Linked DNA regions of Homo sapiens. The protein of the gene in region 1 interacts with the protein of each later gene in a pairwise test. Each region holds a gene or a part of one and is shown on either strand. Other genes may lie near its edges.

What was found.
Region 2: the proteins of SP3 (region 1) and GCH1 interact in a two-hybrid assay, tested with the Homo sapiens proteins (one study listed by BioGRID and IntAct).

Annotation. Positions count from the first base shown.
Region 1 is NC_000002.12:173,900,590-173,916,459, reverse strand, and holds the end of SP3 (transcription factor Sp3), read left to right. Parts: intron 1-3,193; coding exon 3,194-3,390; intron 3,391-6,202; coding exon 6,203-6,519; 3' UTR 6,520-15,685; downstream 15,686-15,870. UniProt on the Homo sapiens protein: Transcriptional factor that can act as an activator or repressor depending on isoform and/or post-translational modifications. Binds to GT and GC boxes promoter elements. Competes with SP1 for the GC-box promoters.
Region 2 is NC_000014.9:54,895,361-54,911,472, forward strand, and holds the start of GCH1 (GTP cyclohydrolase 1), read right to left. Parts: upstream 7,467-16,112; 5' UTR 7,304-7,466; coding exon 6,961-7,303; intron 1-6,960. UniProt on the Homo sapiens protein: Positively regulates nitric oxide synthesis in umbilical vein endothelial cells (HUVECs). May be involved in dopamine synthesis. May modify pain sensitivity and persistence.

The DNA.
Region 1 (15,870 bases):
TTTCCCAGTTTTACATTGCCTTTGTCAGTGGTTTGTAGAATGCATTGTTATTACACAAGTAAAGAAACAGTTCCATCACTTACACCTTGCAAACATTTTAAGCACAAAAAATTAAAGTTGGTCAGCCTTTCCTTTATTAGATGCCTTGTTACCATGCTATTACAAGTTTTCCGTATTCTGAGAATTATAAAAATGTTCATTTATATTTTTTCTAGAACTTTTGTGACTTCATTCTTTAATAGCTCACTTATTCTAAGCAATAAAAATTGAGATTCCTAAGAAAAGAAACTATATTGTTTCTTAGAGCTTGTTTGAACAAAATTCAAGCAGTATATGTGTGATAGACACACTTGTATAAATGACAATTGTACCTAATTGATAGAAGCATAACATAGGTAGTAAATCCAAACTATTCTAAAGTATTCTGCAAGTTGATACAGATAGTAATTAAAAAAGTTTTTTAGAATATTTGTCTTTTTTTGCAACCATTATTTTTTTAAAGAATATGGGCAAGATGGCATTTTTAGAGAACTGATTTTATTCATCTTTAGAGAAGTAAATTTTATTTGTTTACCTTTTAAAGTAAGGTGTAAAATATAAAATATTTAAAAGTTGTAATTATTTAGCAAATATTTATTGAGCAGAACCAGCTTTCAGAGACTGTTTAAACTAGTGAGAGATAACCTAGTGAGAGACAAATAATTGTAAGTAAAATACATTCTAGAGGCATGATTGTTATATAGGTTTTGTATGGATTAAACATCAGTCCATATTTTTAAAATTGTGCACAATCTGTTTTCTTTGTCAGCATTTCAGTTTATGTCCTGTTTTTCCCACCCTGAGCAGAAGAGAGTGTATTTACTTAACTTTTCTTAACTCCTCTACCCACAGTTTAGCTTCCACTCTATCTTAGCATTATTAAATTATTGGGAACAAGTTTAGACACTCAAGAATAAAAACGTAAAATTATTAGTTTTTCCTATATTATAGGCATTAGTGGTGTGGATATTAATCAAGAAGAAAACTTTAAATCTTTTATTCCTGAACTTTGTTGAGAAATTCACTTCAGTTCTCTCCCTTCAAGCCTTGGTATGACATGCCGTAAATCCACATCTACCATATCTATATCTTACTTTGAATGAAATTTTCTTTTTAAATAGAATTTTGGGCCTGGATGTTGAGCTTTTTCCTTAAATATGTGTGCAACCCCGCCCCTATGTTTTTTCTTTCCTAGATGCCTGTCCCATTTTCAAATAATATTTCTTATTTCCTAATAATTCAGTTAAAAATACCTTCCCTAGCTTCTTGCTTCTTTGAGAACCCAGATCTGTTGCTGTTAATTTGTTAGTCTTGTGCTTTGTTAGTGTTCCCATGCTAAATTTTGCTAAGTTTGTGAAATGCACTTTTGAGTTTGTAAAAGCGCGTTGATTATTGACCTGAGTGGTAGGCTTAGAGGAGAGGCATGAAATAATGAGTACACGAGTGAACTGAATTGGGTTCTCTGTGAAATTGCTATGGTGAACACGATATGTAAAATTGGTTTGTACACCAGTAGCCACAAACATTGCTGTTTTTCTTAGGGATTTTTAAATAATAAAATAAATTTAAAAATCTAAATTAAATGGAATCAATATTGGCTTTGGTTAGTAAGACTTTGGCATTGCAAGGGAGCCAGAAAAACCTGTTTCACTTAACTCAGCTCTTTGAAGAGTTGTAGAAATTGGGGGTGGACTGGAGCAGAAACTAGAATTGTGTTAGATTATGACATCCTTGCCCTTGAGACAACAGCATGACTCCTCCTTGTCTTTACTTATGCTATTCCTCTGCCTGGAATGCCTTCCCTCCTTTCTATCTAAATCCTACCCACCTCCTCCACGAAGCCTTCTCTAACTACTGGAGCCCACATTGATGTCTCCCTGTTCAGAACACCTATGGCATCTAACAGCCAGCACTGCACCGTTTAGCACTGTTTGTCCTATGGCAATTTCACATGCTACTGAGTGTGAGTACATTAAAATATAAATGTGGGGAAATATGCATTTTTCCAGTAAATTTGAAAAACGATAGGTGTATTGTATACAGGAGGATTTACAGGCTATAGAAAGTTTTACAGGATATGCCTAAACTGTGAGATTGGGGGAGGAGGGGAGTTGGGGAGGGGGCTAAATGTACTTTTTTAAAAAAACTCAGAAACATTGTAAAGTTTATACAAATTGTTTTGTCCAAAGTGTCATGTTTTTTAAAAACTAATTTATTTTTATTCAGTAACAAGCCTAATTTTTTTTTTTATTTTAAAAGGTTGAGAAATAACATTTTCTGTAGTGTTTAATACTATTCAAATGATCAATTCTGGGATCAAAAAAGTTTTCTTCTTGCTTAGGCTAAGATACCTCTGTTCACCCATCTAATCTCATATCTTCTAAACCCTGCTCTTGGTATCAAATACTGAAATGTAATAAATGTCCAATTTTGTGATGTGGAGAAAACTGTATTTTATTATATCTCTTGTGTCTAATTTTGGGTATCTTTTACATGGTTAATATGAAGGGAATTTTAAATGTAAAGATAATTTTGATTTGTATTTATCTCATCTAATGCTAAGGGAGTTCAGACCATTGCTTTAACTAGATTTAAAAAAAAGCTTTCTCCAAGTCAGTGTATATTCAGAGTGTGGCCACACAAATATGAACAAATATTCTTAAATCATATTAAAGTCTGCTAAAGCTGCCTATATCTTTTAATTGTACCTGTGATCAGTTACGTATTCATTCTTTGGTTTAAATATATTTTTGATTATCTGACGACTTTTGAATACAGACCACATTTAGTTTCCTATATAATTAAGTGGATCAGGCTTATGCGTAGAATTTGTGAATGGTTCTGATAGAAGAATAAATAGCTTTATTGTACATTCTTTACATATGAAATGTCCTTTTAATTACATAATTCTTGAGCATATTTACATTTGGACAACAATCACATTAATTCTGGAGTAAGGTTAATATATAAAATGTATATGCTTGAAATACATAAATTTTCATTTAAACTGATTTTAAATGGTTTTGGTTTCTGATTGACTTTGTAATGATAATGTCTTCTATTTAAAATTCAACATGGGGATATATGATGTAAATGGTAATGTCCATTTGAATATTTTCATATAAGTATATATTATTCTATGTGTGTTTTTTAGAGGTACCAATCTTGGGAAAAAGAAGCAACACATTTGTCATATACCAGGATGTGGTAAAGTCTATGGGAAGACCTCACATCTGAGAGCTCATCTGCGTTGGCATTCTGGAGAACGCCCTTTTGTTTGTAACTGGATGTACTGTGGTAAAAGATTTACTCGAAGTGATGAATTACAGAGGCACAGAAGAACACATACAGGTTACTAATACTTACTTTTAACAGACAAAAATGAATTATAGGGCTACATAACTGCCTTGACTTCTTTTTTATTAGCATTCCTTACTGAACTGAATCGATTTAAAATACAATGAATTACATCCAATTTTTACCTTTAGTAACACCATCTTAATAACACAAATTCCAAAGAACAAGTCAGTCTGGCTTATCTTCTAAAATAAAGTTATATTTAAGTAGACTTTGGGTGGCTTTTGTTGACATTATTGAATGCTTTAAACCACATTTATACTATTTTTATTCTGTTAACATTTTTAATTAGTTGTCAGCTTTTACTCTTGATCTATCCTATTTTTTTTCTTTCCTCTTAACACTGTAACAAAAAATACTCCTGTTTCTTCTGACATATTTGGGCATTTCACCTTTTCTTTTGTTTTTAGTATCTCTGAGGTAAGGGAAAGGTATTTCACTGAGGAATAACCAAGGCAATGTTGATGTGAAGACTTTCTCTGATTATATTATTTTTACATAGTGTTGTGTGGTTGTTAAATGAAATGGACCTGTGACTGATCTACACTGAAACCTAACAGTGTTAACTTAGAGATAGTTTTTTCCTACTACCATGTAAATGATTAAAGTGTTCATCAGTCTATGCTCAACACTGGAGAATTGAAAACTATGTATTTACAATCCCTAGAGAGCTTGGAAGAAGCATGGTAAAATGGAGAACAACATGGATTTTGAAGTCATCTGGATTCCAATCCAAGTTCCCTATTAGGTTAAGCGAATAAACTATCTCTGACGTTGCTTCACATATCCTACTTTGGCCTTCAGTATTGTATAAAATTACCTATGAAGTCTGTAGTAGTATACAGATGCTCTAATAGTTTTAGTTCCTGTCTCTCATTGGGTAGGTAGACAGATGAGATTAACCTACATGAAACTGCAACAGACAATTAAGAAAGTAGATAAGGCTGCAGGGCGTGCTGGCCCATGCCTGTAATCCCGGCACTTTGGGAGGCCAAGGAAGGCAGATTGCTTGAGCCTCAGGAGTTTGAGACCAGCCTGGGCAACATGGTGAAACCGTGTCTCTCCTAGAAAGACAAAGAATAGCCGGGCGGATGGTGTGTACCTGTAGTCCCAGCTGCTCAGGAGGCTGAGGTGGGAGGATTGCTTGAGCCCATGGGGCGGCGGTTGCAGTGAGCCAAGGTCATGCCACTGTACTGCAGCCTGGGTGACAAAGTGAGATCCTGTCTCAAAAAAAAAAAAAAAAAAAAAAAGGTAGATAAAAGATTTTGCGTTGCAGTCTGCTGTTGAAAAGGCTCAGAAACAGAGATAATTACTGCTTGGGATAGTAAAGTATGGGATAATAGATCTTATGATGGCCCTGTTAACAGAATTTTCCTCAGTAGGATTTTATCAGCAGGTTGTAAAAAGGAATAATGTAAAAGGGAGAAAAAGGTCAATGATCAAATAAGTGTAGGAAATAGTGGGCCAAAGAGGGTATAAGTACCTTCAAGGCAGTACCTCTTAGGACCTTTAAATTAAATGCTAGATTGACAGCTTGCATCTATAAGTTAGTGATGTAATGTGTGTGTAGCATTTCCTAACCTTGTGCCGTTTGCCATGGAGTACCTCTCAGGACTAATGTTACAAGAGAAACTGGGAAATACTTTAGTAGAAAAATGGTGGTATGTTAATAGAAGAAGTGAGAGACCTTTTTTTGTAGCGGTGAATGAGGATGAGATTTTACATAACATTTCTGTTAAGTAGGATTGAGGCACACTTTAAAGGTCCTTGTAAATTAGGCAGTGGAGCATCTAAACTGTTACGTCATCTGCAAGTTACCCTTGCATTTCCATATCACTTAATATAATCTTGAAGTTTTCTGATGTAATAAAATTTGGTCTTTAAGGAAGATAGTCTGGAGAGAGAGAGAGACTAGGATGTGACTGCAGTATAGTTCAAGCATGAGGTCTGATAAAGACCTATGTAGAGTAGAGGTGCTAGAACAAAGGATACAAGCTAAGACATTTTTGAAGAAAGGAATTAAGAAAATATTTACTAGATTTATTGATTGATTTTTATTGATTTCTCTCTGAATTCCTTTTAGGTTGGCCTTTTGTCTTCTCTTTTGGTAATCTTGCAGAGTCGGTCTTCAACATAATAGAAGTTCAGTCTGTCTTTTGTATTTAAACTTACTTTATTCATGCTGGGAAATAAATTTAGGCATCAGGATTTTAACAGCTTTAACATCTTAACATATTAGGCTTGTTCTTGATTGTTGTAGCTGAAGTCAAGTCAGCTAGCCAGATTCATTTTTCTAAGGATTACTCATTCTTTTTGGATCTCAAGCTTGTGGTGTCATTTCTTTAATCTAGAAGTACCCTGTTGCTTTAATTCATATTTAAGAGTTGAAGGTTTAGTATCATGAACATGGCATGTTAGTATTTTAATTATAGCGTGAAAGAATATACTTTTATTTAGACTTTAAAGTGTGTTATAGATGCTTATTTTTTAGCTGGCATCTTAACACAGGTATTTCAAACAAACTCTTAGCGTAGTTGAGATATTAAAGTCTTATTTGAATATCCATCTATTATATAATACATGTTTGAAGACTGCTAGTCATCAAAAAGTAAAGATGAAAGATTTAAGGAGAAATATTCTGTAAGAGAAATCTGGCAGGGGTAGCTCGTAAAATGAATACAATTTTAATAGACCCCTGCTCCCATCCTCACCTGTCAGCGTTGACTTACTTTCTGTTTTGGGGGAGATGATTGAGCTATTAAAGTTGAATTTTTAAAACCAAGTAACTTAATTTTTTTCTTAACAGGTGAGAAGAAATTTGTTTGTCCAGAATGTTCAAAACGCTTTATGAGAAGTGACCACCTTGCCAAACATATTAAAACACACCAGAATAAAAAAGGTATTCACTCTAGCAGTACAGTGCTGGCATCTGTGGAAGCTGCGCGAGATGATACTTTGATTACTGCAGGAGGAACAACGCTTATCCTTGCAAATATTCAACAAGGTTCTGTTTCAGGGATAGGAACTGTTAATACTTCCGCCACCAGCAATCAAGATATCCTTACCAACACTGAAATACCTTTACAGCTTGTCACAGTTTCTGGAAATGAGACAATGGAGTAAATATTACACAAATACTTATTCATTGTGGTTATTTTTATACAGTAGTGAGAAGAATATTGTTCCTAAGTTCTTAGATATCTTTTTATTGATGTGCAAAAATTTTTGGATTGACAGTAACTTGGTTATACATGACACTGAAATGCCTTACTTTGTATGATATTCCATAGTATATTAAAAATGGTAAAATTGCATGGGTTTTGTAGGTACTTTTGGAATCTAGAAGAAATGAAATTTTACCAAGTTATATAAAGAGAAAATTGAATTTAACAATGCGAATGGTAGTCTAACCAAATGCATCAATCCTGTGTGGTTTAGTGTAAAAATGAGAACATGTTGGTATTTATCTATTGTAAGATAAAAAAGCTGGTGGGTGAAAGAAATCATGTTATGATAAAAAATTTTGTAATTTTCTTGATGACTGGAATTTTTATTATGCATAACTGACAAATCAAGTTTCCAAGCAAATGTTACATAGTGTAGGCTTTACTTAGCTTATCAATTTGTCATTTTGAAGCTAATTATTTTAATTAGGTTAACTATGTACAATATTTTAAGCATTACTCTTGTAAGATTTTGAAAACTACATTTTAACATGGAACTCTAGGGATAGTCACCTTTTAAATCCTGTTGAAAAGCCATGTTTAAGATTTAATTTGCCAAAATAATGTCTTGTTAATATTCTTTCAATAACGAAGTTGGGCAATATAACCAATGTTTAAAAAAGTTTAAAATGTATAAGTTGAGGCATTTGGGTGGTAAGAGAATGTTATAGTGAATTATCCCTTTTCTTGACTATTGGAGGACCAAAAAAATAAGGTGTATTGCGTCTTAGCAGTGATTTTTATCCAATCTTGTTTCCAAAAACCATGTCTCCCAGGGCCTTAAAAGCCATCATGTAAATTACCAGTAAAGTGTAACATATGCAAACATAACAAAATCACTTCCATAGTGACGATACTCCAACCATATGGATATTAGTCATAGAAGAACTAGAGGTTTTATGATATTTTTTTAAGTCTTTTTTTTTTTTGTCTAGGTAGTCAGTCTGCACTTAAATATCAATCATTTTCCTTTTTTGCTTCTTCCCTTAAAATTTATATGTATCCAGTACATTTAATTGAGAAGCGTATGTTTTTTATTATGCTGTATTTTCTTTTTATTTTTTAATTATTGTTTATATTTTCAATTCAAAAATGTACAAAATAAAGTTACATTGCTGGTCTTGTAAGAGCTATACAGTTTTCCTAAATGTATACCTGTAACTGCAGCAGTTCACCTATTTCAAAAATTTGGAATTCTGTTCATTTGTTATTCTTAAGACCACCTCAAATTTAAAGGCTACCTTATTGTACGTTTAAAGTGTATTATAACAGTGTGGTAGTTAATAAAACACTATTTTTTTTTCTTTTGAGTTTGTTGTATTCCTATGCATAAAAAATATTGCAGTGGTATGGGGTAAGAATTGGTGGTTTATTTTTCTTCAACTTGGCTTTTTATTTTTAGATTCTTGATTTTAGACACTGAATTGTAAACAGGCATTTATTTGAAGAAGAGATATATAGAGACACTGGTCATTTACTAATTTTTTACCTAGAGTAAATAAGAATGAGCTTATTAAATAAAATTTTTGAAAAAAAGTCTTAGCCCTTAGCCCACATTGATTCATATCAGTTTTATCAGTACCATTTTGCAATTTTTTTGTTTTCCGTTTTAAAGCAATGCAGAATATTTTGATTTATCGAAAACCTGAATTTACATTAAGACTCCTGAAAATGATAAGACAAGCGTTGGTAACCATGGCAGGAGTTACTTGAAAAAGTTGCCTTTGAATTTGCATGTGTTTCATCATTATAAAGGCAGAGTAGGAGGAAAGAGTATTAATGTGATTGTGTATTGTAGATGTTTTAAAGTAAAAATCAAGTTTCTTAACACATGTATACAGTGGGGGTAAAGATGTCCATTTTCTGTTTTCCAGGCCCAGTCTGACTCTGTCTGTAATACCTGATTGCATTGGAGAACTCTAGACACGCATAAACATGGACAGTTTTTCTAAATGTGAGACTTAAGCCTGTGATGTAAAATAGGAAGTTCTACTTGGAATAATATAAAGGAACCACTAGAATTTACAATTATTTTGAAGTTACAGGGATTAGATTTTGAATCTTAAAATCCTTTAGGTAATTTTTAGAATTTTTAAATTAAGATTAATGTGAAGAGAATTAAGTGAGCAGCAGGTGGTTCACTTGAGCAAACTGCCCATTAAGTCAGATTAAACCATTTGAATGATAGTAGAGATGTTTTAAGTAATACTGGATTTTTACAGTAAGTTTATGGTGTACTTTGAATCGATAGGTGTCCATGCATATTTTATGAATTCGTGGAGAATGAATGCAATGAAGAAAGTAAGTAGTCTTGAAAATTATTTAAATAAAGTTGTAGATTTTTTTAGTGCCCCCTAGGAATATATTAGTGAACTTTGGAACTTTTACCAAAGTTATGTAACCTCAGTGTAGATAATTTTAAATATTTCTATTTTTATATTTTAAAATGTTGAATATACTCTGGAAACAACATTTGAAGATTTGCTCTGATGTCAACTTTTTCTGGTTATAAAACCTATTAGTATTGTGTATAATTCTCAGGGTAGGTATACTCTAATAGGTGTTTTGTCAATTGCTTTATTTTTGTAAAGGCTAGAGTTAGTGCATATTGAATATATTTATGTACAAATAATTCCTGTTGTAACATTTAGTGGACGCGATTATCTGTATACCTCAAATTTTAATTTAAGAAAGTATCACTTAAAGAGCATCTCATTTTCTATAGATTGAGGCTTAATTACTGAAAAGTGACTCAACCAAAAAGCACATAACCTTTTAAAGGAGCTACACCTACCGCAGAAAGTCAGATGCCCTGTAAATAACTTTGGTCTTTCAAAATAGTGGCAATGCTTAAGATACTTAAAAATACACATACATATAAGCTGAAAGCATGTCAAGCCTATTTCATAGAAAATAGTTCTTAAACAGTATTGTTCATTAGAAATTGCTGGGGAGCATTTTAGAGATTCCATAGGCCTGGTAGCCACCTCAGCTTACTAAATCAACATCTCTGGAGATGGAGTGTATATGTGTTTTGAAACAGCTGCTCAAGTGGTTCTGTTAAACACTCCTGCGTTACAATCACTTAAAATAGAGCAAGCATCCCCTTAGGCTCTTAATTGTAGTTTAAATTCCAGTACTGCCTACTCAGACCCAAAAGTTTTGTTTTATGAAAAATTTGTATTGTGTTCAATATTGTTTGAAATTTGGGGTTGTTGCATAAATGATTATGGAATAACATTTGGTTTTAAAATAATATAAACTGACATGTTATGCTACCTGTTACACAATTTGGTTTTCAGTTTTAATTATATGAAGCTGGTAACAATCGTTTTTGTTGTAAAAGAATTATTTTTCACTAAACAGTATGTTTAAAACTGACTGCCATGAATGAGTACTAAGTCTTTTGTTGTCTGACAATAAGCACAAAACAAATTAATTGATATCTTTGGTACAAATTTGATATTTTTGTGAAATCACCTCATAATTTTATTTAGTGTTGAAGAAACAACATTGGCCCCTTGCCTTGTTCAGACAGATTTGCGTATAATGTAAATATATATATTAGTGGCAGAAACAAAGTACTGTAGAAACCTAGAAGAGGGAGAATTCTGCATGAAGTCTGGGAAACTCAGCAGAAATGGCGTTTGCAAAGGTACAGTGTGGTATGTTGGGTGATGGGGGACTTTGTGAGGGACAGAGTGGAAAAATTTTTAAGAGGGGCTGCCAAATTGCAAAAGAGAAGAATTTTTTTTGTCAGTGATTCCTAGTCTTTTTGGAATCCTACACCTTCTCCCCAGAAAAATTCATTCTAGTCCAGGGTTTATTGTTTGTTTTTTCCCTATATTTGACAGGGTCTGTCTCTGTCACACAGTGCAGTGGTGCAATCATGGCTTACTGCAGACTCCACTTACTGGTCTCAAGCAATCCTCCCCACTTCGGCCTCTTAAGTAGCTTGGACCACAGGTGCACACCACCATGCTCAGTTAATTTTAATTTGTTTTGTAGAGATGGGGTCTCACTATATTGCCTAGGCTGGTCTTGAATTCCTGGGCTCAAGTGATCCTTCCACCTCTGCCTCCCAAAGTGTTGGGATTATAGGCGTGAGCCACCACGCTTGGCCAAATCTGGAGTCTAAAGGGTATACAAGGTTTTTTTTTTTCCCATGTTGGCTTTTATTTGATGTTATAAAGTCTTCATGATATGAATATATTTTTTAAAAAGGTGTCATGTATATTGTCATGTAACATGATTCATGCCACTTCATTGTATTAAATACGTTTAAGATACAGTTTTTGATGTTAAGAATGATATCCTGAGAAGGCCTATCTCCTTCAGTCCTTTTCCCCATTTTTCACCTTTTAACTCTTGCTTCTGAATCTATGCTAAGCTACTTACTAGATGTGTGATATTGGTAGTTTTCTTACCTTAAAACCTCATTTTCATCATCCATGAAGAGGCTAACAATAGTACTCCCTGTTGATAGGATTGTTGTATTAAAATATAAGCATTCAGCATAGTGCCTGACTTAACGGTAGAGATTCAAATGGTAACCTCCTTCCAATGCCTTCCTCCCCCCTTAACTCTGGAGATTCCATTTTTCTGTAGTGAAGTGTTTTAGAATTTTCATTGTTTGACTATGGTTCATACATTGATTTTTCCAAAATGAGAAGAAGTCTTATTTCTAATGCAAAAATGTGAAAAGAACAGTTGGAACCTAAAGTGATAGTGGATGAAGTGTCTGAAGTGACTGCCCTATCAGAAAAGGATGGAATAAGAAGAAAAGACTGAAGCACCTAAATGTGTATTTTCTTGAGGAAATTACACCCCTGTGTAAGAGTCTATCCTATTTGAACATTTCTAAAAACCAGCCGAAGAATCTTCAGGTTCATTGCGACTGAAAGATAAAGTCTAGCACTGAAGTGGTTTTTAAGATTAGGAAAGGCCATCAGAGAAATGCAGTTATTTCTCCCCTCCATCCTTCCCCCACAAAAAAAAGTCTAAGCCTCCGATTAATCGACAACAACGAAATACAGGAAGTATTGGCTTAGTGACCTTTTAGGATATCTGTCCGACTTACATCCCTTCTCTGAGCATTACTTTCTGCCACCTTCCGTGAGGAGCTGTTCAGAAATCAGACAAGGAGTGGACATCTGGTCAAAGTTGAGCCAATTAGATGATTTCTCCTGAGAATTTGGAATTGGAAAACTGATGTCTTGGGAGGTCACATCTGGAACATACATGGGAGGCAGAGAAAGCAAAGATGACATTCAACCCCAGAAGAAAAAGAAAATGGCTTTCTTGATTCCTGATAACTTGGCAGTGTTTGTTCCAGTGTCTTGCATTTCACTATCTGCATTTCATCCTCCTGGGGTTCCACAAGATAGCCTTAAAACCTTACAGAGAGACTCCCCAACTTAGTTTTTTCTTAAGTCAGAAGGCTGTTACTTGCTACCAAATAATGCCAACTAAGACAACTGAGGTACAGTATATTCTCTCGTAAAACACCATAGAGTTGATGACTTGATCCTATAGAAAAGGGTCCCCAACCCCTGGGCCACAGACCGGTACTGGTCCCTGGTCTGTGAGGAACCACCTGGGCCACAGACTGGTCCTGGTCCCTGGTCTGTGAGGAACCAGGCCATACAGCAGGAGGTAAGCGAGCATTCCTGCCTGAGCTCTGCCTCCTGTCAGATGAGCCACAACATTAGATTCTCATAGGAGTGCGAACCCCGTTGTGAACCCCGCATGCGAGGGATCTAGGTAGTGCCCTCCTTAAGAGAATCTAATGTCTGATGATCTGAGGTAGAGCAGTTTCATCCTACAACCATCCCCACCCCCCGACCCCCATCCATGAAAAAATTGTCTTCCTCAAAACTAGTCCCTGGTGCCAAAAAGTTTGGGGACCGCCGTCCTAGGAAATACCAACAAAAAGTCACGTTTATTGCCTGCCAAGTGAGTCAGGTTTAGACAAGGCAGAACTTAGTATATAGCTTGGATGAATCAGAAAGGGTGGGCCTTGAAAGACTGGTAGAATGTGTCCAAGAAAACTGATTAAAAGCCTTAGAAGTCCCTCTACAGTTTCAGGACGCCCTCTTAACAGATGGCTGTATCTTTATCTGTGGTTGGTCTTGTGGAATACTGACTTTCTGCCAGCATTAGCCTGTGTTTCTATGTCACACCAAGTCACGTATATTTTCATTGTGTGTTAGGACTCAGAATAGGTTTGGGTCTTTCTTTTAATTATGTATACCCAATTACTTAGTCCTCCTCACACCCTGATCCTTTAAAAATTCTTAAGTTGTGTTAATTGCATTTTTCTCAATTCTACTCCTAGTAACTCTGTGTGTTTTTTTCCATCTTTATTCATTTAGTAAAGTTGAAACCTTTCATAGCATAATATAGTGATTAAGTGCATAGGTTTGGGACTTAGACACACATGGGCTTGCTTGTCTCCCAGTTCTGCCGCTTACCACCTATGTGACCTTTCACTCTTTACCTTTCCACTCTTAGCCTGTTCTCTAACTATAAAATGAGAATGATGCTAGCGTCATCTTCATAGAGTGATTATGGAGATAAATAAGTTAATGCATGTAAACCACTTTCCATAATGCCTGGCACATATTATATTATGTATTAGTAAATGTAAGCACTGGAAGAATCAGTAGTCTTCCTACACTTGAAAATAGTTGTCTTCAACTATTGTTGTATTAATGAGTTAATTCACCTTGTTAAGTCACCTTGATCCACCTAATTGTCAGCCAACATTTATTAACGAAACTGCTAGTATTCGTATTGTGCCTTTTTTATTATGAAACATTTCAAGAATACAGAAAAATGCAGAAAACAATGTAACAAATACCTAAGTATCTATCACCCAACTTTTATAGTCTTATTTTTACCTATATATTTTTTCTTTTAGAAAGGAATGATCACAGTTGTGCCTGAAATCTGTATAGCCCTGTCTCATTTCATTTGTCTCCCTTTACCCACATAAGTAATTGCAGCTCTGAATTTGATGTTTATCAGAATGATACCATGAGTGGTTTTATATCCTTATTATATGTATGCATACCTAGGATTGTTTTTCTGATTTTGAAACTTCATATAAATGGTATCATTCTGTACAAAACCTTCTGGGACTTGTTTTACCACTCATGTTTTTGAGATGTATCCACACTACCATCTTTCTCTAAATCATTCATTTAAATGCTGTAGTTCATTGAATAAGTTTATCACAATGTATCCATTTTCTTCTTGATGAGCATCTCAGTTATTTCCAATTTTTGACTTATAAACAATGCTGCAATGAAATAATTGACATATTTCCTTGTGTACATGTGAGCATTTCTTGAGATATGTATCTAGAACTTGAATCACTGGCCAACAGGATATTCTTAATCTTCAGTTTCACCAGATACTTCCAAATTGATCTCCATAACATGCATACCAAATTATATTCCTACCAGCCATTTATAGGAGTTCACATTTTTTCCATACCCTCCCAATCCTGCCTTGGCAGATATGTTTTTTCCAATGAATAACAATGAAATTTTGTTTTGGGATTTGACAAAATGATTCTAGATTCATCTGGAAGAAAAGCAAGTATAAGTAAGAAATTTAAAAGGGACCTGAAAAACTAAGCAATGGATATATTTAAAAATTGGTACCAGTAGGGATAACCAAATATTTGTTAACTGTAGCAGAAACAATGCATGTTTTTCTCACTGGTTCCACCTTCTATCTCTCAGTCAAGCCCTGCCCAGGTGTGGTAGTCCTCATAGTCTCTCACTGTAGGGGTCTTCTCACATAGTAGACCACTCTCTTGAGTTGAATATTGAAAAGAAGGCTTGGCCGGGGGCAGTGGCTCATGCCTGTGGTCCCAGCACTTTGGGAAGCTGAGTCGAGCGGATTGCTTGAGGTCAGCAGTTCGAGAGCAGCCTGACTAACATGGTGATGAAAAGTACAAAATTAGCTGGGGGTGGTGGCGCATGCCTGCAATCCCAGCTACTCGGGAGGCTGAGGCACGAGAATCGCTTGAACGCAGGAGGCATAGGTTGCAGTGAGCCGAGATTGCACCACTGCACTCCAGCCTGGGCGACAGAGCAAGATTTCGTCTCAAAAAAAAAAAAAAAAAAAAAAAAGGCTTAAGTCCAACTAACTGTTTCCCTGCTGTTCATTTTATCCAACGGCTGGGGATATAGGCTACTGCACATGATGGGTTGATGGATGTGAAATGATAACTCATGACTTTAATTCTAATTTTTCTATATTCTGGTGAGGTTGAGCATATTTTTACAAGTTCATAATCCATTTTCCTCTGATGGGAGTTGCCTGTTTGAATCCTTTGCCCACTTGCTTTTTGGGGTTATTTGCAATTTTTTGCATTGATCTTCAAACATTCTTAATTAATCCCAGGTACATATTATTTTATATATAAGATATATTTTAGAGATATATAGGCTGATAGTATCTTTTCTCAGTCTAAGGCTTATCTTTTAATTTTGTTTATGGTGTTTTGTGTGTGTTGTTTTGCAGAAGTTTTATTGTATCTGAATTGTGGCTTTTGTGTCTTAAGAAATTCTTTACCTACTGTCATAAAAATTTTTGTCTAAAAATTTTATGATTTTGCCTTTCTATTTATCTTGTTAATTCACTTTGAAATTACTTTTGTTTATGGCATAAAGTCCATTATTTTCCATATGGATAATCAGTTGTCTTAGCAGTTTATTGAATGGTCCAACGTTTCCCTGCTGATTATAATGCCCTCTCTGTTATTTATCCTAAATTCTTGACATCCGGTAAGGAAGTCTCCTCTGCCCACCCTTCTCTGTATTTCAAAATGGTTTTGACTGTTCTTGACCCCTTGCTCTTTCTGTGAACTTTAGGATTAAATGATTATGTAGAATTAAACAATCGGGTTAAGGTTTTTTATTAGAATTACATTGAATCTATAGATTAATTTGGGGAAAGAATGTTATCTTTCTATCCATGATAATTCTGTATCTCTCCATTAATTCAAGTCTTTAATGGTTTTTAAAAATAAATTATTGTCTCTTTGAAAATCCTTACACATCCTTTATTGCACTGATTCGTATGTAGTTTATGTTTTTGTTGTTGCTTTGGAGAATAGGCTTCTTAAAATTAAATGTTTAAATTGATCAATGCTGGAGTATATAAATGCTATTGATATTTGTAAAATGATTTTGTCTAATAATCTTACATAATTCTTTTGCTGTTCTAATAGTTT
Region 2 (16,112 bases), on another chromosome or scaffold:
GTCTTGGCAGACAAGCTAAAACCTACTTTAACTGGAAATGTGACAGAGTCAAGACTCTTGCATATTCCCAAAAACTCATAAAAAACAACTGATGGAACAAGTTATACCCATTTAATCCTTGGTAGATAATGCTGTCTGAAAGGCTGTTCCCATGTATACCTGGAAGGGTCAGTTACAGGGGCATGAAGATCAAGGCCCTCAGAGAATAGCAGACTCTCCAATTTAACTAAGTGTAGGTTCTGAATAAAAGAATAGTGGAAATACAGGAAAGGTACCTTATATAGAAAGGAGAACTCACCAAGATAAAACCTTGAATATTTAAGAGAACTAGGATACAGCTAAACTGAAATGGCACAGAAATAGATCAAGACGAGCTGGTCTGAGCTGGTCCAAGGATCAGCTTGTGATGTAGATTCAAAGGACAGCCAGTTCCTGGGAGAGATGATAGCGTCTCCTCCAGCCCTCCCTCCTAGCCCATGAGCTACAGTCCAGTAGGGAATAGTACTAGGAAACCTATACAACCCTGACACCACCCTGGTCACAGATGACCACAGATGCTCCCATGGAAGGTACACACTGGAAAGTAGGGAAAAGGTGCACAAGGAGACAGTCATGGAGAGACGCTGCAACGTAGGGAAAACTGAACAAATTCCCCAGAATGCCAGGAATTTGGATCAATCCACACAAGAGGCACTGGGAGGAAAAATGGATTTTGAAGAATGTAAAATACCAACTTATTTTAAATTTTACAACACTTAAGTCAACATTACTAACCAGGAGTTAATATATAGAATACAGATATATAAAAGATATAAAGTCCTGTATCCTGTTTACAAGCACAGAAAAGTGACCTTCAGAGAAGTATGTTCTTATCCAAAAACAATATATAGTGGCCACTTGACTCATGCTCTCTAAAGAAATAAAAGGGATTGTGCAGAAGCGTTTATGGACCTAAAGATGTGGGTTCCCACTCACTCCTATCTCCCACCAGTATCCTTCCTTCTCCCTGCCATCCAGGTTGGTCCAAGACCCCACCACATTTCAGGTTCATTCCTTTAAGTTCAGCATCATCCTTGTTCTCACTACTCTGTCTTCTCTTTAATTATATATCTCTTTAAAAAAAAAAAAGAAATATTAAATCCTTAAACAGATCCCCTAGATACAGGCTTTCAAACTTTTGACTACAACCTACAGTAAGAAATGCATTTTACATCTGGAGCCAGTGCACACACACACAATTATGCCTATAAAACCTACATAGAAGTTTCTCGGCCGGGAGCGGTGGCTCACGCCTGTAATCCCAGCACTTTGGGAGGCCGAGGCGGGCGGATCACAAAGTCAGGAGATCAAGACCATCCTGGCTAACACGGTGAAACCCCATCTCTACTAAAAAAATACAAAAAAAAAAAATTAGCCGGGTGTGGTAGCGGGCGCCTGTAATCCCAGCTACTCAGGAGGCTGAGGCAGGAGAATGGTGTGAACCGGGAGACCGAGCTTGCAGTGAGCCCAGATCGCGCCACTGCACTCCAGCCTGGGCTACAGAGTGAGACTTCATCTCAAAAAAAAAAAAAACAAAAGAAGAAGTTTCTCAAAACACTTGTCCTTACTATATGTGATAGACTGATCTTATCCATTCTACTCCACTTTTTGTTTTTTTTTTTTTTTTTTGAGATGGAGTCTTGCTCTGTCGCCAGGCTGGAGTGCAGTGGCACAATCTCGGCTCACTGCAACCTCCGCCTCCCGGGTTCAAGTGATTCTCCTGCCTCAGCCTCCCAAGTAGCTGGGACTACAGGCACGCACCACCACACCCAGCTAATTTTTGTATTTTTAGTAGAGACGGGGTTCTTGATCTCTTGACCTCGTTATTTGCCCACCTCAGCCTCCCAAAGTGCTGGGATTACAGACTTGAGCCCCCGTGCCCAACCTCTACTCACTTTTTTTTTCTGAGACTGAGTTTCGCTCTTGTTGCCCAGGCTGGAGTGCAATGGTGCAATCTTGGCTCACTGCAATTTCCGCCTCCTGGGTTCAAGCAATTCTCCTGCTTCAGCCTCCCAAGTAGCTGGGATTACAGGCATGCACCACCACACCTGGCTAATTTTTGTATTTTTAGTAGAGAAGGGGTTTCTCCATGTTAGTCAGGTTGGTCTCGAACTCCCAACCTCAGGTGATCCACCCGCCTCGGCCTCCCAAAGTGCTGGGATTACAGGCGTGAGCCACCGCGCCCGGCTACTCCACTTTTTTTTTTAATGCTGTTGACCCAATTCACAGTTTGAAATATACAGATAGGGTACACTGATTCAGTTCTCTCTGTAGCAGTATAAGGAAGTGGCTAAGAATTCTGCAGTCAGACTCTCTGGATTCAAATACCAGCTCTACTACTTGTGTCAACCTCTCTGCCTCAGTTGCCTTGTCATGGGGATAAGAGAAATGTTTACTTGAAAACTGGAAGATGAACCAAGACCATCCAACGTAAAGCTTTTAACCCATTAAAAAGTACGGTCATGCATTGCTTAACAATGGGGATACATTCTGAGAAACACCTGAGAAATGCAGTTTCATATCGCAAACACTGAAGGAAGAGAGTGCTAACACAAACCTAGATGAGATAGCCTATTACACACCTAGGCTACACGGTAGAGCCTATTATTCCTAGGCTACAAACCTGTATGGCATGTTACTGTAATGAATGCTGCAGGCAACTGTAACACAATGGTATTTGTGTATTTAAAGATATGTAGGCCAGGTGGGATAGCTCATGCCTGTAATCCCAGCACTTTGGGAGACCAAGAGGAGAGGATCACTTGAGCCCAGGAGTTCGAGACCAGCCTGGGCAAAACAGTGAGACCCTGCCTCTATATTTAAAATACAAATAATAATAATTTTAGAAAGACATCTAAACATAGAAAAGGTACAGTAAAAATATAGTAGAAAAGACTTAAGATGGTATGTCTGTGTAGGGCACTTACCATGAAAGGAGCTTGCAGGATTGGAAGTTGCTCTGGGTGAGTCAGTGAATGCATGGTAAGTGAATGTGAAGGCCTAGGACATTACTGTACACTACTGTAAACTTTATAAACACTGTACACTTGGGCTACACTAAACATATTTTTTCTTCAATAATTTCAGCTTAATGTATTTAAAACTTTGACTCTTTTGTAATAACACAGCTTAAAACAAAAACACATTGTACAGCTGTGCAAAAATATTTTATATCCTTGTTCTATACCTTTTTCTATTTTTAATTTTAATTTTTATTTTTATTTATTTATTTACTGTTGAGACGGAGTCTCACTCTGTCAACCAGGCTGCAGTGCATTGGTGCAATCTCGGCTCACTGCAACCTCCACCTTCTGGGTTCAAGTGATTCTCCTGCCTCAGCCTTCCAAGTAGCTGTGACTACAGGTATGCGCCACCACATCTGGCTAATTTTTACATGTTTAGTAGAGATGGGGTTTCAACATGTTGGCCAGGCTGGTCTCTTTCTAACTCCTAACCTCAAGTAATCCGCCCACCTTGGCCTCCCAAAGTGCTGGGATTACAGGTGTGAGCCACCATGCCTGGCCCAATTTTCTTAATTTTTAAATTTTGTTAAAAACTAAGACATGGGGGAGACGAGAGGAAAAAACTAAGACACAAACAAACACATTACTCTAGGCCTACACAGGTCAGGATCACCAAGACATCACCAGACAATGTGAATTTTTCAGCTCCATTGTAATCTTATAAACCACCTTCATACATGTGGTCCATCATTGAAGGAAACATCATAATGTAATGCATGATTATATTCAATTAATGGCTTATAATAATCTTAAATGGGCTGGGTATGGTGGCTCACACCTGTAATCCTAGCACTCTGGGAAGCCAAGGCAGGCAGATCCCTTGAGCTCAGGAGTTCAAGACCAGCCCGGGCAACATGGCAAAAACCCGTCTCTATCAAAAATACAAAAATTAGCAGGGCATGGTGGCACAAGCCTGTAGTTCCAGCTATTCAGGAGGCTGAGGTGGGATCACTTGAGTCCAGCAGAGTGAGACTGCAGTGAGCCGAGATTGCGCCACTGCACTCCAGCCTAGGCAGCAGAGCCAAACCCTGTCTCAAAAACATGAAAATAAACATAATAATAATAATCTTAAATGGTCCGCTCCATGGACTTTTCTTTTCTGAAACAGGGTCTCCCCACGTTGCCCAGGCTGTTCTCCTGAGCAACAACTATCCTCCTGCCTCAGCCTCCCTAGTAGCTGGGACTGCAGGCACGCCACAAAACCTGTCTTTATATTGTGGTAAAATATATATAAAATTGGTCATTTTTAGCCATCTTGAAGTTACAATCCAGTGGCATTCACAATATTGTGCAACTATCACCACTCTCTAGTTCCAGAACATTTTCATGACTCCAAAAGGAAGCTCCAAAGGAAGCTCCATACTCATTAAACAATCACTACCCATCCCCCTCTTCTCGCCAGTCCCTGACAACTACTAATCTTGCAGTGTCTCTACATCCATGGACTTTTTTTTTTTTTGAAATGGAGTTTAGTTCTTGTTGCCCAGGCTGGAGTGTAATGGTGCGATCTCGGCTCACTGCAACCTCCGCCTCCAGGGTTCAAATGATTCTCCTACCTCAGCTTCCTGAGTAGCTGGGATTACAGGCACCTGACACCATGCCCGGCTAATTTTTGTATTTTTGGTAGAGAATGGGTTTTCCCATGTTGGCCAGGCTGGTCTCGAACTCCTGACCTCAGGTGATCCGCCCGCCTCGGCCTCCCAAAGTGCTGGGATTACAGGTGTGAGCCACCGCGCCCGGCCCATGGACTTTTTAAATAGTAAAACTTGACCAGAACAGTTTTTTTGTTTTTTTTGTTTTTTCTGGAGACAGAGTCTCCCTCTGTCGTCCAGGCTGGAGTGCAGTGGTGCAATCTCGGCTCACTGCAACCTCCTCCTCCTGGGTTCAAGTGATTCTCCTGCCTCAGCCTCCCGAGTAGCTGGGACTACAGGCGCCCGCCATCACACCCGGCTAATTTTTTTGTATCTTTAGTAGAGACGGGGTTTCGCCATGTTGACCGGGCTGGTCTTGAACTCCTGACCTCAGGTGATCCGCCCACCTCGGCCTCCCAAAGTGCTGGGATTACAGGCGTGAGCACCGAGCTCGGCCAACCAGAACAGTTTTCTAATGTGGAATGATGTGTTCTTTGCAGTTATTAATCCTCTTTAAATGAATCTTCGCTCATGAGATATTTCAGCTAACCATTTCTCAAGTAAATCTGTGAGTCACTTTAGATAATTCTGTGACCTGTCTCAGGGTCAGAAATTCCTCTCTCTTTGGGTAATTAGATCCATGCTAGATTACAGAACACTGTCCTATGAATTCTCTTTAAGGGAGGATTCCCAAAGCCTGGCCGATGCTGTGAAGTAAACCACTTTCTGTGTCTGCAAGGGGCAAAATGAGTAAGGCCTTAAGAAGACATTTCATTACATTGTGAAATATCTCACACACACACACACACACACACACACACACACACACACACACAAATTTAAAGCCCTAGACCTCCAAAGAGCTGATCCCACAGAAAACTGAAAGTTTATTTTTCAGTCTTTGTATTTTGAAATCTCTTCTGAGATTCCAAACTTTTGCAATTGAGGGGTAAAAAAAAGTGAATTTGGAAACAGAACTAGAAGTCACTGCCGGTTTTAGAGTGTAGCATCATTTCCTTTTGGGGCCCCGTCTCTTTCACATTCTGATTTCCCACCCTTCCTTTGGGGTGTGGAAGACTGGGCAAAAAATAACTTTCTTTTTCCCAGGGTCTATTTGGTGGAATCGCTCTACACTCCTTCAGAGAAATAACTGGGGCAGGGAGATTGCCTTTCCAGCGCACTGTTTTTCTTTCAAAAAACAGTGAACGGTAGAATGCTTCTTAGGGCAAATAAATAAATGTCACCAAGACACACGGAAGGTGTAGACTGGAAAATAATGTCTTTGGTCCCAGCTGTAGAAGCCAGAAGCTTTATTTTTTTAAACACAGACCAATACTGCTTCTCTGGCCAACAGGCAGCAAAGTCCCCATTTTCCACTCTCCATCACCCCATCTTGCATCCTACCCACACTGATTGCATCCCCACCCTCTGGGTGAAAAGCCGACACGCCTCAGACGCTAACAGCACCGGGTCAACCCGGCTTTATTTTAGGGTGGGAGGGTGCGGGGATGAGACTGAGTCCTGGAACCCACGGAGCCCTCCGAATCCCGGAGTAGCTTTACTGCTTTTTGCGGGGTTGGGGGTGGGGGGAGGAAACAGATTTCAGCAGCAAACTCACCCAATCAACCTCACACCTCAAACTCCGGGGAAGCCCGTGCCCAAAATTGTGCCGAATTTTGTAAATGTCCTGAACTGGAGTAAACTTGAGGTGGACAAAAAAAAAAGCACAACTCTAAGACTCCGATCCCCTGGCAAATCAGTGGGAATGCAGGTCCCCGAGGTTTCGGGGAAGGATCGCGCCGAGGCTTCAATCCAGATACACACCCTGACAATGGGATCTCAATAAGGAACTACCCAGGAAGCCGTCGCCGCAGCAAGTGCCCAGGTGATCCTTATCGTGGGCAAGTTTGGAACCGCAGGTACCCCGAGAATCCCGCGCTGGGCGCTCAGGCGAGAGGGCTCCGGGCTCCCGTCCACGCCCACCCGGGGCGTTCTAGGAGGGCTGCGCGCTGGGAGCGGGAAGGGCCCCTGGAAGGCGGCTGCAGCGAGTTCCGGGGCTGAGAGGTCGCTGCCACCCAGGAAGCCCCGACTGTGCCCCACGCAGGGCCTCGGCAGGGCGGCAGGCTAGGGCGGGTTCGGAGGTGACAGCGCCCGGCTTCCTGCGCCAAAAGTGAGGCAACTCCGGAAACTTCCTGGAGCCGGCGCGCGTTTCCTGCAAGCACCGCCCCCGCCGCCCGCACGCTCTAGCAGCCCGCGGGCGCACTGACCTGAGATGGTCTCCTGGTAGCCCTTGGTGAAGAACTGCATGGCCGAGGCCGCCCTCCAGGGCGTCTTGAGCAGCCCTTGCCGCTGGGGGTTCTCGCCCAGCGAGCTCAGGATGGACGAGTAGGCGGCTGCCAGGTTAGGGAGGTTCAGCTCGTTATCCTCCTCGCTGCGGGGCCGCTCGCCCTTCCAGCCGTCCGCGGGCTGCGCGCTCTTGGCCTCGGGCCGCGGGGGCTTCTCCGCCGGCCTGCTGGGCCCGGGCCGCGGCGGATCCCGCTCGGGGAACCCATTGCTGCACCTGGCGCCCCGCGGCTTCTCCGCCGGTGCCCGCACAGGGCCCTTCTCCATGGACCCGCCGCAGCCGCTGCCGTTCGGGAAGGACCCCGGGGCGCTTCGAGGTCTGCGGCTAAACTCCGCCGGTGGCCGCGGACAATGGGCTGTGGCCGGAGTCACCTGAGGAAGGTACGCAACCTGCTTAGATCACACTCCGAGCCGGGAGCGGCCACAGGCTGGAAAGCCCGGCCGCGCCTCCTTTTTATGGCCCGGCGGCTCAGCCTGCGCCGCGGAGCGCTCCCATTGGCCGGCCCCGCCTCGCGTCACGGCCCTCGCCGCGCCCCTCGGCCTCCCGCCCCCGGGGTCCCCAGCAGGGGTCGCGGCTCCGGAGACGCCCGGAGGGGTTCGCAAGCGCAGGGAGGGAAGGAAAAGGGCGCCGGCCCCTAGGATCAGGCGGGACCCCTCCACTTATTGCGGAATGAGCCGAACCCGAAAAGAGGCAGTCGTCCAGGAGCTGGGATCTCAGTGAGAAAGACGCGGTCTGGGCGCCCAGTCGCCCCCTCTTCAGGCCAAGAGGGCGCTGCATTGAAGGGCTCCGGTCCCCTCGCCCTGTGAAAGATCAGCAAACAGGTGGCCTTGCCTGGAGAGAGACCGAGTTAAGCCACCGATTAGGAACCAACTCTTAAGCTTTCAAGGCAAGAGAATAATGTGACTTCAGACTCTTGGGTTTAGTTAAAAACGCACCTGCCACCTAGGGGCCAGGTGGCACCGCTGTCGGGGCAAGTGTCACATCAAGTGGCCCTTATGTGGGTCCCTATGTCTAGAAGGATAGGATTTATGGTTGCTAGAACTTTGATCCTGGAAAAATTGATTTGCAAACGAAGATAGGACTTTCACTTAAAATCCATTTCCGTCGGTGGCTCACGCCTGTACTCCCGGCGCTTGGGGAGACCGAGGCGGGAGGATCGCTTGAGGCCAAGAGTTCGAGACCAGCCTGGAAAACATAGCAAGACCTCATCTCTATAAAACCCATCGCATTTTCTAGAAACGCAGTTGTGCAGATTTGGTGCTCAATTGTTTTACAGTTCCATGCAAAGCGTCTTTCCCCAGATGTTGGTACAAATTGTGAAATGCTATTCACCAACTGAACTCTTAACCAGTGACATCTGCTGTAACTGTTTTCTTTGAGATTAATAAATGGACCTTTTTCCTCACTTGAGGGATTATCTCATAATGCCGAAGGTGAGCTTTAAAACATGTATCAAAATAATATTTTTTTTCTTTTTTTTTTTTTGAGGCTCACTTCATCCTCCGCCTCCTGGGTTCAAACGATTCTCCTGCCTCAGCCTCCTGAGTAGCTGGGATTACAGGCACCTGCCACCATGCCCGGCTAAATTTTTGTATTTTTAGGAGAGGTGGGGTTTTGCCATGTTGGCCAGGCTGGTCTCGAACTCCTGACCTCAGGTGATCCACCTGCCTCGGCCTCCCAAAGTGCTGGGATTACAGGTGTGAGCCACCATGCCTGGCCTAATGTAGATTTTCTGACATAGAAGCAGGTATTAATAGGCTTAGGATCAAACAAACCAATAGGGAAGCCTGTGGAATTATTCTATGCTAACAATGTAGCTTGGTCATTATAATAAGTAATTAGTATTTATGATACATCTGCTCTAGGCGCAGCCCCGTTGGAAACATTCAGGAAAGAAATATGGACATTGCCTAGCCTTGTAGGCACCTTTACTCCAAAATGGAAGAAATGTTCATATCAGTGGGGTTATTTATTTATTTATTTATTTATTTATTTATTTATTTTTAAATTTTAATCTATTTATTTAAGAGCGGGTTATGAGACTGGCTAATTTTTGTATTTTTGGTAGAGATAAGGTTTCACCATGTTGCCAAAGCTGGTCTCGAACTCCAGGGCTCAGGATTATAGGCCTGAGCCACCGTACCCGGCCCAGTGGGGTTTTTAAATAGAGAATATGAACATCCTTTGGAAAACCTCTTTGTCATTTTCCTCTTTATTAAAATTTTTAAATTTTTTATTGTAGGTTTTTATTGGGAGTGGGGCCCTGCAACATTTTTTTCCTCTAACTGTGCTGCCCACTGTCTGCTGATACCTCCTGGTCAGAATTATCTGCTGGGTCTCAAGCTATTTCAAGCATAGTTGAAGACAACATTCAAAGGATGACCTTGCATTTAACAAATGAAAACAAAGATACTAAGTGAGGTACTTTAAAAATGGAGAGAGTAGATAGAGATGCTTTCAGTACGAATTTATTTTTAGTGGCAATCTTTCGTCTTCCTTTAAAAACATGTGTAAAGATTAACTAATATTGTATTCCACAAAGACAGTTTCTAATGAAATTTTTACCCTAAAAATTAACATTTTCTTACACGTATTGCCACTGAGGCACCTGCACCTTTGTTGCAGGACAGGGCCTCTGGATACATGCTAACTTGTAAAATGGAGGCAGTGCCTTTCGGCCAAATGCCCAAAAATAATACAAGAAAACTTTGAAATCACCAACATTATATGAATAATTTAATAGTAAAATGTAGATAGTTGACAAGGATGGTTATAAGTAGCAACAGGAGAAAAAAAGAGGAATAAACCAAAAGGGAAGTAGGTCCCAGATAATTTATTAGCATAAAATGGTTCAACAGTAATATTATGAGCATTTACAGCCAGGAATTGTTACCGCATCCATGTTTTTCACCCAGTAAGGGATTCATTTTCAGCTTGGACCCAGTCTGGGAGTTTCTTTCTACCAAAAAGCCAAGGAATTTTTTAAAGTCTCTAATTTCTAGGACAGCAGCAGAACAAAGAGGCAGATGAGAAAGACACACCAAGTCAGAGACTGAACACTGCAGTGCTACAGAAATGTACAAAGAGTTGTTTGCCAAGTGTGATATGATGATACATGTATATGTAGGTTTTCAGCCATAGTACCTGGTTCATAACTCACAGTCTTTTGTTACAATGTTGGGGCACTTTAGGCCTCAGAAAATAGAATCAATCTCTCTCTCTCTCTCTCTCTCTCTCTCTCTCACCTTCTGCTCCCCTTCCACTCACTAAAGGCAGGACTCTAATCATCTCCCGCCTTTCTGATTACGGATCATAAACCCTCATTGCAAACAGGGTCCTGCCTCATACCCTGGAGGAAGCATGGCTGCACAGAGAGGTCAATCACACCTTGACACGGCTGTCCATGCTTCAATCATGCCTATACAACGAACATAAAAGGCCCAGACGGCAGGGCTCAGGGAGGTTTTGGACAGCTGAATATGTGGAGGTTCCTGGAGGGTGGTGTGCCCAGGGAGGGCATGGAAACTCCATACCTCTTACCCCATACCTCACCCTATGCATCTTTTCATCTGTATCTTTTGTAATATCCTTCATAATAAACTGGTAAACGTAAGTGTTTCCCTGAGTTCTTTGAGTCACTCTAGCAAATTAATTGAACCCAAAGAGGGGGTTGTGGAAACCCCAACTTGAAGCCAGTCAATCAAAAGTTCCAGAGGCCCAGACTTGTGAGTGGTGGAAAGGAGGGGCCAGTGTTGGGGACTGAGCCTTCAACTTGTGGGATCTACAGCTATCTCCAGGTAGGCAGAATCAGAATTGAATTAAATAAGAGGGAGGACACCTAGCTGATGTCCCCTGCTTGGTGTGTGGGAGAAAACCCCCACCCATTTGGTCACAGAGTCTTCTGTGTTGACTGTTGTTGTGGTATAACAGCAGAAGAAAACCACAGTTTCAATTTGTCCAAACACCAAGGGTAATAGACAAACTAACATTGGGTATTTGGCAACAGTAATTGGAAAAAAGCAAATTTAAGTGAACTTGATGGAGGCTCTATACTTGAAATTCAAACTCTGGAGGAGATTTTGGATCAAGGTAGAAAGGTACAAAGAAAAGGTGGCCGGGCATGGTGACCCAAGCCCGTAATCCCAGCACTTTGGAAGGCCAAGGCAGGTGAATCATTTGAGGTCAGTAGTTCAAGAATAGCCTGGCCAACGTGATGGAACCCCGTCTCTAATAAAAAATACAAAAATTAGCCGGGCATGATGGTAGGCACCTGTAGTCCCAGCTACTCAGGAGGCTGAGGCAGAAGAATCATTTGAATCTGGGAGGCAGAGGTTCCAGTGAGCCAAGATCACGCCACTGCACCCCAGCCTGGATGACACAGCGAGACTCCATCTCAAAAAAAAAAAAGGCCCAAGAGCCTCATATTGAGTATAATAAGCCATCCAAAGCCTAAATGTACCCATAAAGGATACCCTAACAGACATGTGTCCCTGGTAGAGAATCTGCAATACCATCTCAGAAGAACAGGCAGATGCTAAGAGGGATGCTAATAGAAAGTGCACCTCAGCGCTGCTGAACTCTGTCCCTGCCTCCACATTACCCCAGAAGAAGGGATGCAACACAGCTCCTCAAGCTCCAGACTGCAGCAGAGTCAGGAAAACAAAAGGGCTTCTGTTATCATGGAAAAACCTGAAGATGTCTCAACAATATCAGAGATACGCAGTGTCAGGAAACAGCCTCCCAAGCATGGGCAGGGGGCAGAGAAACAGCATGGCAACCGTGCAAACACACACCAGCCAAACAAAACAAAAGAAAACCAAGGGGGAACATCATATGGCATGCAGGAGACATAAAGGCAAATAATGCAACTAAGAAGAAAGCAAATCTCATGGAACAGAAGAAAATTCCTCACGAATGTTTGATGCCAGAGACTAACTCAATAAAAGTATAAATTCAGGCTGGGTGCAGTGGCTCATGCCTGTAATCCCAGCACTTTGGGAGGTTGAGGCAGGAAGATCACCTGAGGTCAGGAGTTCGAGACCAGCCTGGCAAACATGGTGAAACGCTGTCTGTATTAAAAATACAAAAATTAGCCAGCGTGGTGGGCACCTGTAATCTCAGCTACTTGGGAGGCTGAGGCAGGAGAATGGCTTGAACTTGGGAGGCAGAGGTTGCAGTAAGCTGAGATCACGCCACTGCACTCCAGCCTGGGCAACAGAGCGAGACTCAGTCTAAAAAAAACAGACAAACAAACAAAAATCATGAATTTAATAAGACAAAAGCCAAAATAATAGAATTGAAAGGGGAGCTATGGATCAACAAAATAAATTGAGGACCATCATTATTATAGAATCAATTAGAAAGAACCATGTACAAAGTAGATACTGCTGAAACTGTAATTGCTGACATAAGGAAAGACGTGAGAGTGAATACAGAACAAAAGACAAACATGAAAGCTATTAGAGAAGACAAAGATGATCCAGTGTAAGGATAATTAGGGTTCCTGAGGTAAAGAACTCAATGAATGTGAGGGAATGTAATCAAATATATCACACAAGTGTATTAATCCTTACATTTATGTTTGATTGATTTTTGACAAGGATGCCAAGACAATTTAATGGGGAAAGAAGACTCTTTTCAACAAATGATACTAGGACGACTGGATATCTACATACAAAAGGAAGAAGTTGAACCTCTATCTCACAACATATACAAAAATAAACTCATCGGGTAGGTGCAGTAACAGCCACCTGTGGTCCCAGCTATGCTGGAGGCTGAGGCTGGAGAAGTCTTGAGCCCAGGAGTTTGAGGCCAGCCGGGGCAACATAGCGAGATCTTATCTCTAAAAAATAAAACAAAAGAAAATCAGAATGTAAGAGGTAAAATTATTAAACTCTTGGAAGAAAATATAGGCATAAATCTTCAAGACCTTGAGTTAGGCAATTGGATTTCTTAGAAATGAAACCAAAAGTAGCGCAACAAAAGGAAAAATGTAGAAAAAACCTAACAGCCATGTCATGCGGTGGTAAAGAAACAACCTTCAGTTTCACTGTCTGGGTTCATGGCCTGGCTCCATCAATTATCTTTGTTGTCAATGGGCAAGTTTCTTAATTTCTTTAAGCCTGGTTCCTCCTCTGTAAAATGAGTATTATATATAGAGTCTTTGTCATAGGCTTATTGTGAGAGTTTGAGAGAGCAACAGTATTAGACATATACAATTTGAAAAATAAGTATTGGCCATTATTAATGACAAAAATGTCTTTATACAAAAGCAATATTTTAATTCTAGCAAGTTCCCCTAGATTTTATTGTTGCTACAACCAGTGAAAAAAGAAAAAATTTAAAAATTTTTAAAAAGGCAGATCCCTTGGGGAAAAAAAAATAATATTTGGTGCTGCTTTACTTAAGAGAGTCTAAGTATAGACAGAAAACTTGAAGTGTTCTTTTTTTTTTTTTGAGATGGAGTCTCACTGTTGCAAAGGCTGGCCTTGAACTCCTGGGCTCAAGAAGTGATCCTCGGCCAGGCGTGGTGGCTCACACCTGCAGTCCTAGCACTTTGGGAGGCTGAGGTGGGCAGATCACCTGAGATCAGGAGTTCAAGACCAGCCTGGCCAACATGGTGAAACCCCTAAAAATAAAAAAATTAGCTGGGCATAGTGGCGCATGCCTGTAATCCCAGCTACTGGGGAGGCTAAGGCAGGAGACTCCCTTGAGCCTGGGAGGCGGAGTTTGCAGTGAGCTGAGACTGTGCCACTGCACTCCAGCCTGGGAGAAGAGCAAGACTCTGTCTCAAAAAAAAAAAAAAAGAAGTGATCCTTCCGCCTCAGCCTGCTGAGTAGCTGGGATCACAGGCTCGTGCTACCACACCCAGTTTAAAGTGCTGTTTCTTATCATTAACTGAAAATTAATCAAAAGTTGAAATAAAACATTTCTGTTCCTTGGTTAATGAAAATAGAAAAAAAATTTTTTTTAATTATAATGTAAGTCAATAGGGTATAGTTTGTTTCAAGATTTTCAGCAACAGAGTGATTTAACTGAGGTAAAACTGTATTGTAAATACTACAAGTTTGGTGTTTATTTATTTATTTTAAAGAAGGGGTCTTGCTCTGTTGCCCAGGCTGGAGTGCAGTGGCATGATCATGGCTCACTGCAGCCTTGAATGCCTGGGCTAAACAATCTTCCTAGCTCAGCCTCCCCAGTAGCTGGGACTACAGGAGTGAGCCACCATTTAATATTGTTGCTCTCTCAAACTCTCACACCTAAACTCCACCACCCAACTAGAGTTTGGTTTTTTTGTTGTTGTTTTTTAGAGATGGGGGTCTCACTTTGTTGCCCAGGCTGGTCTCAAACTCCAGGCCTCAACAGATTCTTCTGCCTTGGCCTCCCAAAATACTGGGATTACAGGAGTGAGCCACCGTGCTGGGCTAATATATTTTTTAATGTACTTAGTGCAACACCTGATGACAGAACTATGAAATGATACCTCAAAAGATGCATTTCACTGAATGCAATTTACTATTAAAAGCCCATATGCTGAGTTCCCAACTAGGCATTGCGAAATGACACCATTCATCAAGAAGGCTTTCAAACTTATGTATGATGAGAACACTGGGTCAGGGCTCTATCATCTGAGGAAGGGACAATCTAGACATGGATCAATATCTATCTGCAGAGCATTATCTCCAACACAACAGTGTCCGATGGCAGGGCTGTATGTCTCATCTGCACATTTCCACTGCTCCCCACTTCTCCCGAGCTCCTCTATCGGTAGTAGTTATTTTGGGAGGAGGCCTAGTTTATCCAGAGCAGAGGATTTGTTTTCTAGTCAGCAGATGCTTTCAAGTTGTAATTTAACTGTCAATGAAAAATAAATAAAAGGTGTTGCAAATTCTGTAAGATCTTAGCAATTCATGGAAGCTCTGTTGTTATTGAATGTATCTCCCTCTCAGTTGCCTGGGGAACTGCATTTTAATGTCACACATCAAGCAGCTCTTTCCTGAATGTAATTGTAGTTTTTCTGATGTCATGGTTAAAGCTGTTCAAATGTTTGGCTTCTGGCAAATATTTTCTAACATCATTCATGACAGTGATGGATCTGAAGCAATTTTAATACATTTTTAAATCTCACTAACTTATTAAATAACCAGAGAAAGAATCGTATATAAATTGAAAATATATTCATTACCAGAAGAAGTGTCTAGGAAGATACATGTGAGTCTGTAATGATATGAGGTTTTCATGACTATGATTGGTTCATTGCAGGATAGCATATTAGAGGCCAGGCACGATGTCTCATCAGGGTATGCCATATACCAAGATGAAGCCCTATACCAGATGGACCATTGGTTTCTACAAGTCACTGCTAGATGCCTACCCCAATATCATTTCTCCCCTTCTTTTACTAAAGGATCTCCAACTCAGTTCAGAGAGGCCTGGACTTAGTTCAATACACTTGGACTTGACTTTAAAAAAACACACACGCATTTTCAAGTTCCCTGCAGTTACAATGGCCACATGACATAGTTCTGTCCAATGAGTTATCAGTAGAAATTGCTGGATGGCACTTCTGGGAAAGGCCCTTAAAAGGGGGCAGATTGGTTGCTTTTCTATGTCTAAGGAATATGATAATTAATATTGATATAATATCTGTTTATACCCATCTTGTCCCATGAGAAAATTCTGAGTTAATGTGCAGTTCTGCTCAGGTATTAGATTAACATTTTCATAAGGAACCCTAGTGACAAAAACTGTTGAATTTTAGGCCGGTAGGGAGGTGTTTTTGAGCAGGAAAGCCTGAGTGCCCCTCAGTTTCCAACATACAAGAAGTCCTAGGCCAGGCGTGGTGGCTCATGCCTGTAATCCCAGCACTTTGGAAGGCTGAGGTGGGCAGGCCACTTGAGCTCAGAAGTTCGAGACCAGCCTGGGCAAGATGGTGAAACCCAGTCTTTACAAAAAATACAAAAAAATTAGCCAGGCATGGTGGCCCATGCCTGTAGTCGCAGCTACTGTTTAGCCAGTGAATGGAGCTGGCTTTGGCTTTCATGAACAATAAGGTGTGGGGAGGATGAGATTTGG